Linked DNA regions of Homo sapiens: region 1 is linked to region 2. Evidence: fine-mapped expression QTL. A gene starts in region 2. The other region holds a variant in brackets. All regions are shown on one strand. Distances are between the middles of the regions. Region 1 has its middle 6.5 kb from the start of CCR9. Region 2 holds the start of CXCR6 (C-X-C motif chemokine receptor 6).

Region 1 (4,532 bases), 63 kb after region 2:
AGGTCCAAATTTCCAAGGAATAAAGTCTGCAAGGACCCTTTTTTCCCCACTAATCCATGAGGAAAGGGACTATGTGGATACTGGCCATGGTTGAAGCCCAGCAGCACATTCTAGGAGAATATTAAACATCTTCTGACTAAATTAATGCAAAAAATTCACCTGATATAAGTCTTGAGGATCTAGAATAGAGCCATCTAATAGCACTTTCTGCAATGTGGAAATATTCTATAGCTATCTGTCCAGTGTGTGGCCACATATAGCTAGTGAACATGACACTGTGGTTAGTGTGATCTTTTTAAAATCGTTATTTAATTGGAATTAGCTTAAATGGAAATGTAAACAGCCAACATGGCCAGTGGCCACCCTAGTGGATTGTACAGGTCCAGACCAACCTGCTATTCAGCAGCTAATATTTCTACCTCGGCTCTAGCCTTAGATAGCTCACATTATGATGCAAGCCAGGGCAGCTGGCCTGTGGCAGACTCACTCCCTTCTGCAAGGGGGTGAAGGGTGTGAGGCTGAGCTCTTCCTTCCCCAGTAGCACTCAAGCCAGGGCAGGCTTTAGCTATACTGGTTTTCTAGAATACCTGTAGATACTTTTAAGGGCAAGGTCCCTTAAAAGTATTTTTACACATTCTTCGTGTGTCGCAGTTAGTAATCAAAACCCTTAAAGGACAGGAATGAGGAGAAAGTAGTCATTTTTGCTAAATTCAGTTACCATGAATAGCCCTTGAAGGTCGCGGTGTCAGCTAGGAGGCAATTCTCAGAGAGTGAGAGAGAGAGAGGAGGAGGGGGCCCGCACCCTGCAGCAGCAGCAGGAATGGGAGGGACAGGACAGACATGGCCAAGTGCCCCTCAGGAGCTGCCAAATGATGAGATGTTGCAGGAGGAAGAGAACAAAACCAGTTGGAGGCTGTGGGAAGACTTGGGTATCTTTAACTGAGCAAGTGTGTGGGAGGAAATGTTGGTTTTGGCAGATAGTGATGCATGTAGCACTGGATGTGATATGGCTGAGGTGTTGAAGTGAAGGTGTCTAGCAGGTCGTTAGATATTCCCCACTGCAGCTCAGAGGGGAGGTCAAGAGTTCAGTGGTGTGGCTGCCAAGCTGCTGCAGAATACAAGCTGTTTATAAGGGAAATATGTGTCATCCTCAACTCCTGAGGTTTTGTGCTTGCAGCACCTGAGTCATGAGACCAGTCAGAGGATTTTTTATTTTTATTTGTCTCATCTATTAATGATAAAAATCATCCCTTCTGCCCTCACACGCATTATCTCATTGGAAGATCTCATTGGAATCCTTCATTCAACATGTACTTGTCAAGCTCCTACTATTTGCTGTCACTGTTCTAAGAGGTTGGATGTAGCAGTCAGCAAGACAGAGCACATTAAATAGCGACAAATGCCATGCAGAGAATCAGTACAGACAGAGGTGATGGAGGGAGTGGCGTGGGAAGGGGGCCCTCACACTGGATGGTCTGGGAAAGGCCCACTACAGTAGTGACACTTAAGGCCTGAGTGACAAGAAGTTCCCATCAATGTGAAGATTGGAGCAGCCATTATCAGCAGAGGGAACAGTTGGCAGGAAGAATTTGACGTGTCCAAGGATGAGAAAGACCAACAGGCAGGAGGACAGCTTGCAGTGAGGGGCGGCCAGATAATTTGGAGGGGCACGAGCATGTTGGGCTTTGAGGCTGGGCCAGTAGTTTTCACCTGATGCCAGGTGTACAGAAAGCTACCCAAAGGACTTATATAGGTGATAACACGATCCGATTTCCTTTTTTTTTGAGATGGAGTCTTGCTCTGTCGCCCAGGCTGGAGTGCAGTGGCGTGATCTCGGCTCACTGCAACCTCCACCTCCTGGGTTCAAGTGATTCTCCTGTCTCAGCTTCCTGAGTAGCTGGGATTACAGGTGCCCATCACCACGCCCAGCTAATTTTTGTATTTTTAGTAGAGATGGGGTTTTAGCATGTGGGCCAGGCTGGTTTCAAACTCCTGACCTCGTGATCCGCCTACCTCGGCCTCCCAAAGTGCTGGGATTGCAGGCCTGAGCTACCTCGCCTAGCCTGATTTCCATTTTTAACAGATCACTGATTGCTGCATGGGAAACAACAAAAAAACAGCAAAACCTTTGGTTCTGCAGGCACCAGAACCAAACGTCTAAATGAGAGCCTTGCCTTGGCTGGGCTGGCCTAGGCCACCGCAGGATCCACCCTCAGCTCTGCCTGTCACTGTCCCTTCTCTGGACCTCTGCCTGTACGGAGGCATCATGGTAGATTCAGGGTGCTTACATCCCTCCCTCCTGCCACCCCTGATGGAAGGAGGACACACACACTAAACGTCACCCAGGGAACATTTCTAGTGATGACCATCATTATTCACTGAGAAGTGCTTATGGGTTTTTTTAAATACATATTTTTATCATTAATTCCAGTTAATAATGTTGGGTTTTTTAAATAGGCTTTGTTTTTTAGAGCAGTTTTAGGTTCACAGCAAAATTGTGCAGAAGGTACAGAGAGTT[C/A]CTATATACCCGCTCCCGCAGCACATGTGCCACCTTCCCACTATCAACATCCTGCATCAGAGTGGCACATTTGTTATAATCAGTTCATCTACACTCATACATCACTATCACCCAAAGTAGTTTACTTTAGGTTTCACTCTTTGTATTGAACACTCTGTGGGTTTGGACAAATGTATGACATGTATCCACCATTAAAATAACATACAGAATAGTTTCATTGCCCTAAGGATCCTCTGTACTCCACCTATTCGTCCCTCTCTTCCACCTTACTCCTGGCAACCACTGACCTTTTTACTGTCTCCAGTTTTTCTTTTCCGGAATGCCGTATTTGTTGGAATCATACAGTATATAGCCTTTTCAGATGGGCTTCTCTCACTTACTGATATGGATTTAAGGCTCCTCCATGTCTTTTCATGGCTTGCTAGCTCATTTCTTTTTAGTGTTGAATAACATAAACTATTGTCTGGATGTGTCACAGTTTATTTATCCATTCACCTGCTGAAGGACATCTTGGTTCCTTCCAGGTTTGGGCAATTATGAATAAAGTTGCCGTGAACATCTGTGTGCAGATCTTTGTGTGGCCATAAGTTTCAGCTCATTTGGGTACATACTGAGAAGCACGATTGCTAGATCATACGGTGAGAGTATGTTTAGTTTTGTAAGAAGCTGCCAAACTGTCTTCCAAAGTGGCTGTACCTTTTTGCATTCCCACCAGCAATAAGAGTTCCTGATGCTCCATATCATTACCAGCATTTGGTGCTATGTGTTTAGGGCCTGGGCTATTCTAATAGGTGTGTGGCTTTAATCTGAAGTTCCCTAATGACCTATGATGTCGAATGTATTTTCATACGCTTATTTCCCATCTGCATATCTTCTTCAGTGAAGTATCTCGAACTCCTGACCTCGTGATCTGCCCGCCTCAGCCTCCCAAAGTGCTGGGATTACAGGCGTGAGCCACTGCACCTGGCCCAGTGAAGTATCTCTTTAGGTCTTTTGCCTGTTTTTTAATTGGGTTGCTTATTTTCTTATTGTTGAGTTTTAAGAGTTCTTTGTATATTATGGATAACATTCCTTTATCAGATGTGTCTTTTGCAAATACTTTCTCCCAGTCTGGGGCTTGTCTTCTCCTTCTCTTAACAGTGTCTTTCATAGAGGGGCTTTTTTTTTTTTTTACTTGAGGGCCTTTGTGACCCTAAAAATCAGAACTTTACATGTTTAGTTTTTTAAATAAGAAATTACATTAGAAATGGGCCCCATCCCCCAGCCTCACCCTGCCCCACTTTGTCCATAGCGCCAACCCCTGCCCTGTCCCTGGCCCTATAGTATATTAACACTTGATCATTTTTTCAAAAGCTGAAAGTTCAGTGGCTAGTTTTTGAAAAGTCAGAAAATTTCCACAGCATCAAAATAGCTACATGAAAATAGCCTCAGTTTCTAAATGGCCACATCAAAACAATCACATCAAAAGGTCAGGCCCCTGCAAGGGAGACCCAGAGGAAAGCTTCAGGCCTCGGGCTGGTGCTGGCCATAGTTAATAATAATGTTTTGCATATTCCAAAATTGCTGAAAGAATAGATTTTTAAACATTCTCACCACAAGAAAAATGAGTAGGTGAGGTGAGGAAAATACTAATTAGCTTAATTTAATCTTTCCACCATGTAGATACATCACATTGTACCCCATAAATAAAATTATTATTTGTCAGTTAAAAACTAGTAAATGGGCTGGGCGCGGTGGCTCATGCCTGTAATCCCAACACTTTGGGAGGCTGAGGCGGGTGGATCATTTGAGGCCAAGAGTTTGAGACCAGCCTGGTCAACATGGTGAAACACTGTCTCTACTAAAAATACAAAAATTAGCCAGGCATAGTGGCAGGCGCCTGTAATTCCAGCTACTCAGGAGGCTGAGGTGAGAGAATTGCTTGAACCTGGGAGGCAGAGGTTGCAGTGCGCCAAGATCAAGCCACTGCACTCCAGCCTGGGCAACAAAGAGCTAGACTCTGTCTCAGGAAAAA
Region 2 (4,000 bases):
AGGACAAGGGATCATGTAACCTGTGGTGTGGGAGCAGGGGCAGCTGCGGCAACATCAGCCCATGAGTGCCAAGTCTGCCCTTGCTACAGGACTGCAGATACTCAACATGCAGCAGCTCATTTCCAGTGACCTGGAGCCATGTCTGGCCAGCACCTCTAGAAGATGTATGAAGAAGAGCAGGTGTTTGGACAGAATCTCTGCCAGCAAAGTCAAAATATTGCCTGACCAGACAAGTGCATATAAACGATGAGGTTACCTTTCCTAATCCACTCAGAAACACTTCTGTCGCTGACTTTGAGTCCTGACTGGGAGCAGTGTCTCCGATGCTGCTGCTTGCCTCTGTCTTTCCAGGGACCAAAGTGCCCTTTCTCTCTAGCAAGGAAGGATGCTGCCTTTGGGCTAAGACTGCTTAATAAAAATCCTTGCCCTTACGTCACAATTGTTAGATCTCTAAGGGTGATAGGTCAGCCAGTAGACATCCTGCCCCCCACAAGCTCTCTGGGGCACTGTATTAAGTAGGTCAGATGATGTGTATGTGTTATTGATTCACATGGGCAAAAACATATTTTTTCATCATTTAAAATATGAAACAGGTGGCTTTGCTCTTAAGAATAATGTTCAGCTCCCCATTATTGCTTGACTCGCTCTCGCCTTTTTTTGGTATCTTCCTGTTCCAGCTTTTGCTGGTCCCTTATGCTGCCATTACACATTTCCTCAAAGGACCTGTGCAAATTCATGTGTAATAATTGGTAAACTTTGATGTATAATAATTGGTAAACAGATTGGGCCTGGACAGTGCTGTGCAAATAGAGTATGAAAAATTACTTTCCCTTCTAGGCGAACTAAAAACATTCATTTCTTTATCCTCTATAATTAAAATCCTATTTTGTTTTCTGAAAATTAAAAAAAAAATCTACAACTTTGGAAGTAGTGTAAAAGTCTGATAATGATGAAGCAAATTACAATTCATACATAAAATAGAATATACTTAAATGTTTAGGAAGTATTTTTACTGATTTTGGAAAATGCAATACAGTTAAATTGCTAAGAACAGTGTAAACACAAAGTAAATATGCAAAATAAGTATTAACTATTACTATTACAACAAATAGATGTCAAAAGGATATAAAATTGTGATTCTTAACCTTTTTTGACCATAAACTCCTTTGAGAATCTCCTAAAAACTGCAGACCTTTTCTCAGAAATAATGTATATATATATACACACACACACACACACACAGACACACACGCACACACACAAACACCCCTACAATTCTGGGAGTCCATGAACCCCTTGAATCCTTCTGCCATGTATTCTGTGGGCCCTCACATAAGAGTTCATGATAAACTATGTGATTTTAACTGACCGTACTTTTAGAAACCTGGAAAAAATGATCACATTTTATTAACAGTTGGCCTCCAGCTGGTGGAATTATGGGTGACTTATTTCTTCCTTTTTTTAAAATAGTTTTCAAAGTTTCTACAGTAGTATGTTGATTTATATTGAAAAAAGAACATAAATGATAATCTGATAAAACAGCCTGTCTTATGCAAAAGAAATGAAAACAGAGATTATTCATTGAGCAAATATAGACAATAACTAGATTCTCCTTATCTCCCTGGGTGGGTCTGACTATGCCATTACTAGCAGTACCATCAGCCTGCAAGCACTAACTGTGTGCCTGGAAACATGTTCAGTAGTTTTCATGTTTCTCCAGTTTAACCCACACAGCAGCAAATGGCAGTGATGGAATTTGAACGAAGAGCAGCTGAGCTCCATAGCCTGGCATTTTGCACTGTACCCTACTACAGACAGGAATCTGAGAATACCAACAATACCTGGGGTTAGTCCTCCCTGTCTTCTTTTCAATATAAAGAGTAAAACAAATGACTCACCAGCAGAGATGCTTTGCCAGTTTGTTCCAGAGATGAGCTTGCTCATGAAGCAAGGTCTGCCTCTACTTCTGTGATGTGGTTCATGTTTCCGCTGAACATTTTTTAAGAGCCCTCAGCTGGTTACTATAAGAGACCCACCCCCTACTCCCGTCCTTCAGATCAGAATCCATATGACCAACCCGCCCCTGTGTAACGCGTGGGTCAGAGATGGATGGGTGACTGATACCCCACACTCCCTTCATTCTGCTTTGGGGCTGATTCTTCTGTCAGGGCCTGACGAGCTTTATTCGTAAACTAAAGGGGAACAATAAGGAGGTTTGGCTCTGGCCATCCACCGAAGATGGTGGCATTTGTACCTTAAAATTACTTAATTCACTAGTCAGACATCTTTTTGGAACAGTTAGGGTCTGGGCCAATGCTGAGTCCATGGTATGGGCTGGGTTCTGCGTGCATATGCAGCTCCAGCATATGTGATAGCTGTTAAGCCCCATAGCAGCCCTGCAGTGGATATTATCCTGCCTTTATAGATGAGAACACTGAGGACCATAGCCAAAATAACAAGCCCTGGTGCACACAGCTAGAAACTGGAAAATCGAAGATACACACTCAGGTATCTGTCATTACCAGACCAATCAACAGCATGATGATGGGTCTGCCAGAGGGCCTGGTGCAGCCCCACCTCCTAAGCCCACACCACTCAGGCACTCAGCAGGCAGTGCCCACCCACCCTGCGTAGGCTGGCTGGAATCATCTGGTTTCCTTGGGCTGCCCTCTGTACTCCTGGAATTCCCCAGATGTTGACTACTTTGATCTCAGTACAGTTCTAGTTGTCAGTCTCCATGATCTAACATTACTGACCCTTCTGGGAAATAACGCTGGAAGGCAGGAATTGGAGGCATGTCAGCCTGGGTCACATGCCCCAGTGCCTTGTAGTGGAGAGGGTACTAGGGAGAGGCATGGACTCGATGTCTGCTTTCCCAGAAGCAGCTGCCTTCTTGTGGAGGTGCCTGGCCTGCCTTCTCTGGCTCTGCACTCCCATTCAGGCTGCTTCTCTCCAATGCTGTTGCTCTCTCCCACCTGCTAGGCAAACCTTCTCATGTGGCTCTTCCTAAGGGCAAATGTCAAGCATTGGGAGCAGGGACCAGGAGCAGCCTCAGGATCCAGAGACTAACACTCATTTCTACCGCAAGCCTGGCCCTATGCTGGATGCTTCTATGTACAGCCATCTAATCCTAGTCACGTACAGATAGGCAAACAGAAGATTAGAGAGATTAGCCCACTTGCCCAAGAACACACATCCCTGGCAGTCACCCAGGACTGTCAGGCTGCAAAGCCAGTGCTTCCTGCCCTGCTCTGAGTATGGAGCTGTGCCAGGGGGCCCTGATAAAAGATCTGAAGACCTCTAGTAGGTTTGCAGGCCTTTTTGAATGAATTCGTTCAGACTGTCCTTTCTACCAAACTGGTACAAATGAGTGAGGTGTTCCTTATGGGCATGAACCATGAGGCCGCATAGACTACATACCGATGGACAGATGGATGTAGGGAATGGTGGACAAATGAATAAAGGAACAGACTGAGCCAAATATGCACCTGTCTTCCTGAAAGAGAACTTTCAAGGCAGGGTGGCAATTTAATGTAACCCTGCCTGACATTTAGGAATCTTTAAGCTTTGAGAGCTGAGTTTTACCCAGGGACAACCAACCATGCCATTCAAGACAGGTCCATAGGGCAGTGTTAGAATGGCCTGAGCCTTGTCAAGCACCCTTGGCCATGCTTTTCTCAGCAAGCCTTTCTACTCCATGGGGAAAAACAAGCCAGCACCTGGGGCCCTCCATGACTGTGTGTACATGTCAATATGGGGATATGTGTATTTGAGAAAGCATGGCTTGTTTATCGTGGCCATTCTTTAATAGAAACTTCTCTATAGTACAAAAGACTTTCACCTAAATTTGAGGAGCTGAGCCACTTGCAGGTTTGGGGCTAAAATTTTATTTTAATCACTTTACAAAATGCCGTTTACTATCTGCCAATTTATAGTGTTAATTGTTTTAAGGGCATTACTTTTATTTGAAACAAAACTTTGAACTTCCTAAGGGTGGGAA

What was found. PIP is the estimated chance that this variant, and not a neighbour inherited with it, causes the effect.
Region 1: its variant is the best candidate, but not a certain one, in a credible set for the expression of CXCR6 in whole blood (TOPMed, PIP 0.85).

Annotation. Positions count from the first base shown.
Region 1 is chr3:45,877,754-45,882,285 of GRCh38, reverse strand. It overlaps a transcript of LZTFL1 not described here. Among named protein-coding and RNA genes, the nearest start is that of CCR9, 6.5 kb to the left of the region's middle. RefSeq lists a silencer at 1,841-1,997. The variant C/A (reference allele first, on the strand shown) is at 2,519.
Region 2 is chr3:45,941,439-45,945,438 of GRCh38, reverse strand. It overlaps CXCR6 (C-X-C motif chemokine receptor 6), which reads right to left and starts at 1,975. Exons shown (of 2, transcript NM_006564.2): 1 at 1,899-1,975. All of the region lies in intron 14 of FYCO1 (FYVE and coiled-coil domain autophagy adaptor 1), which reads left to right.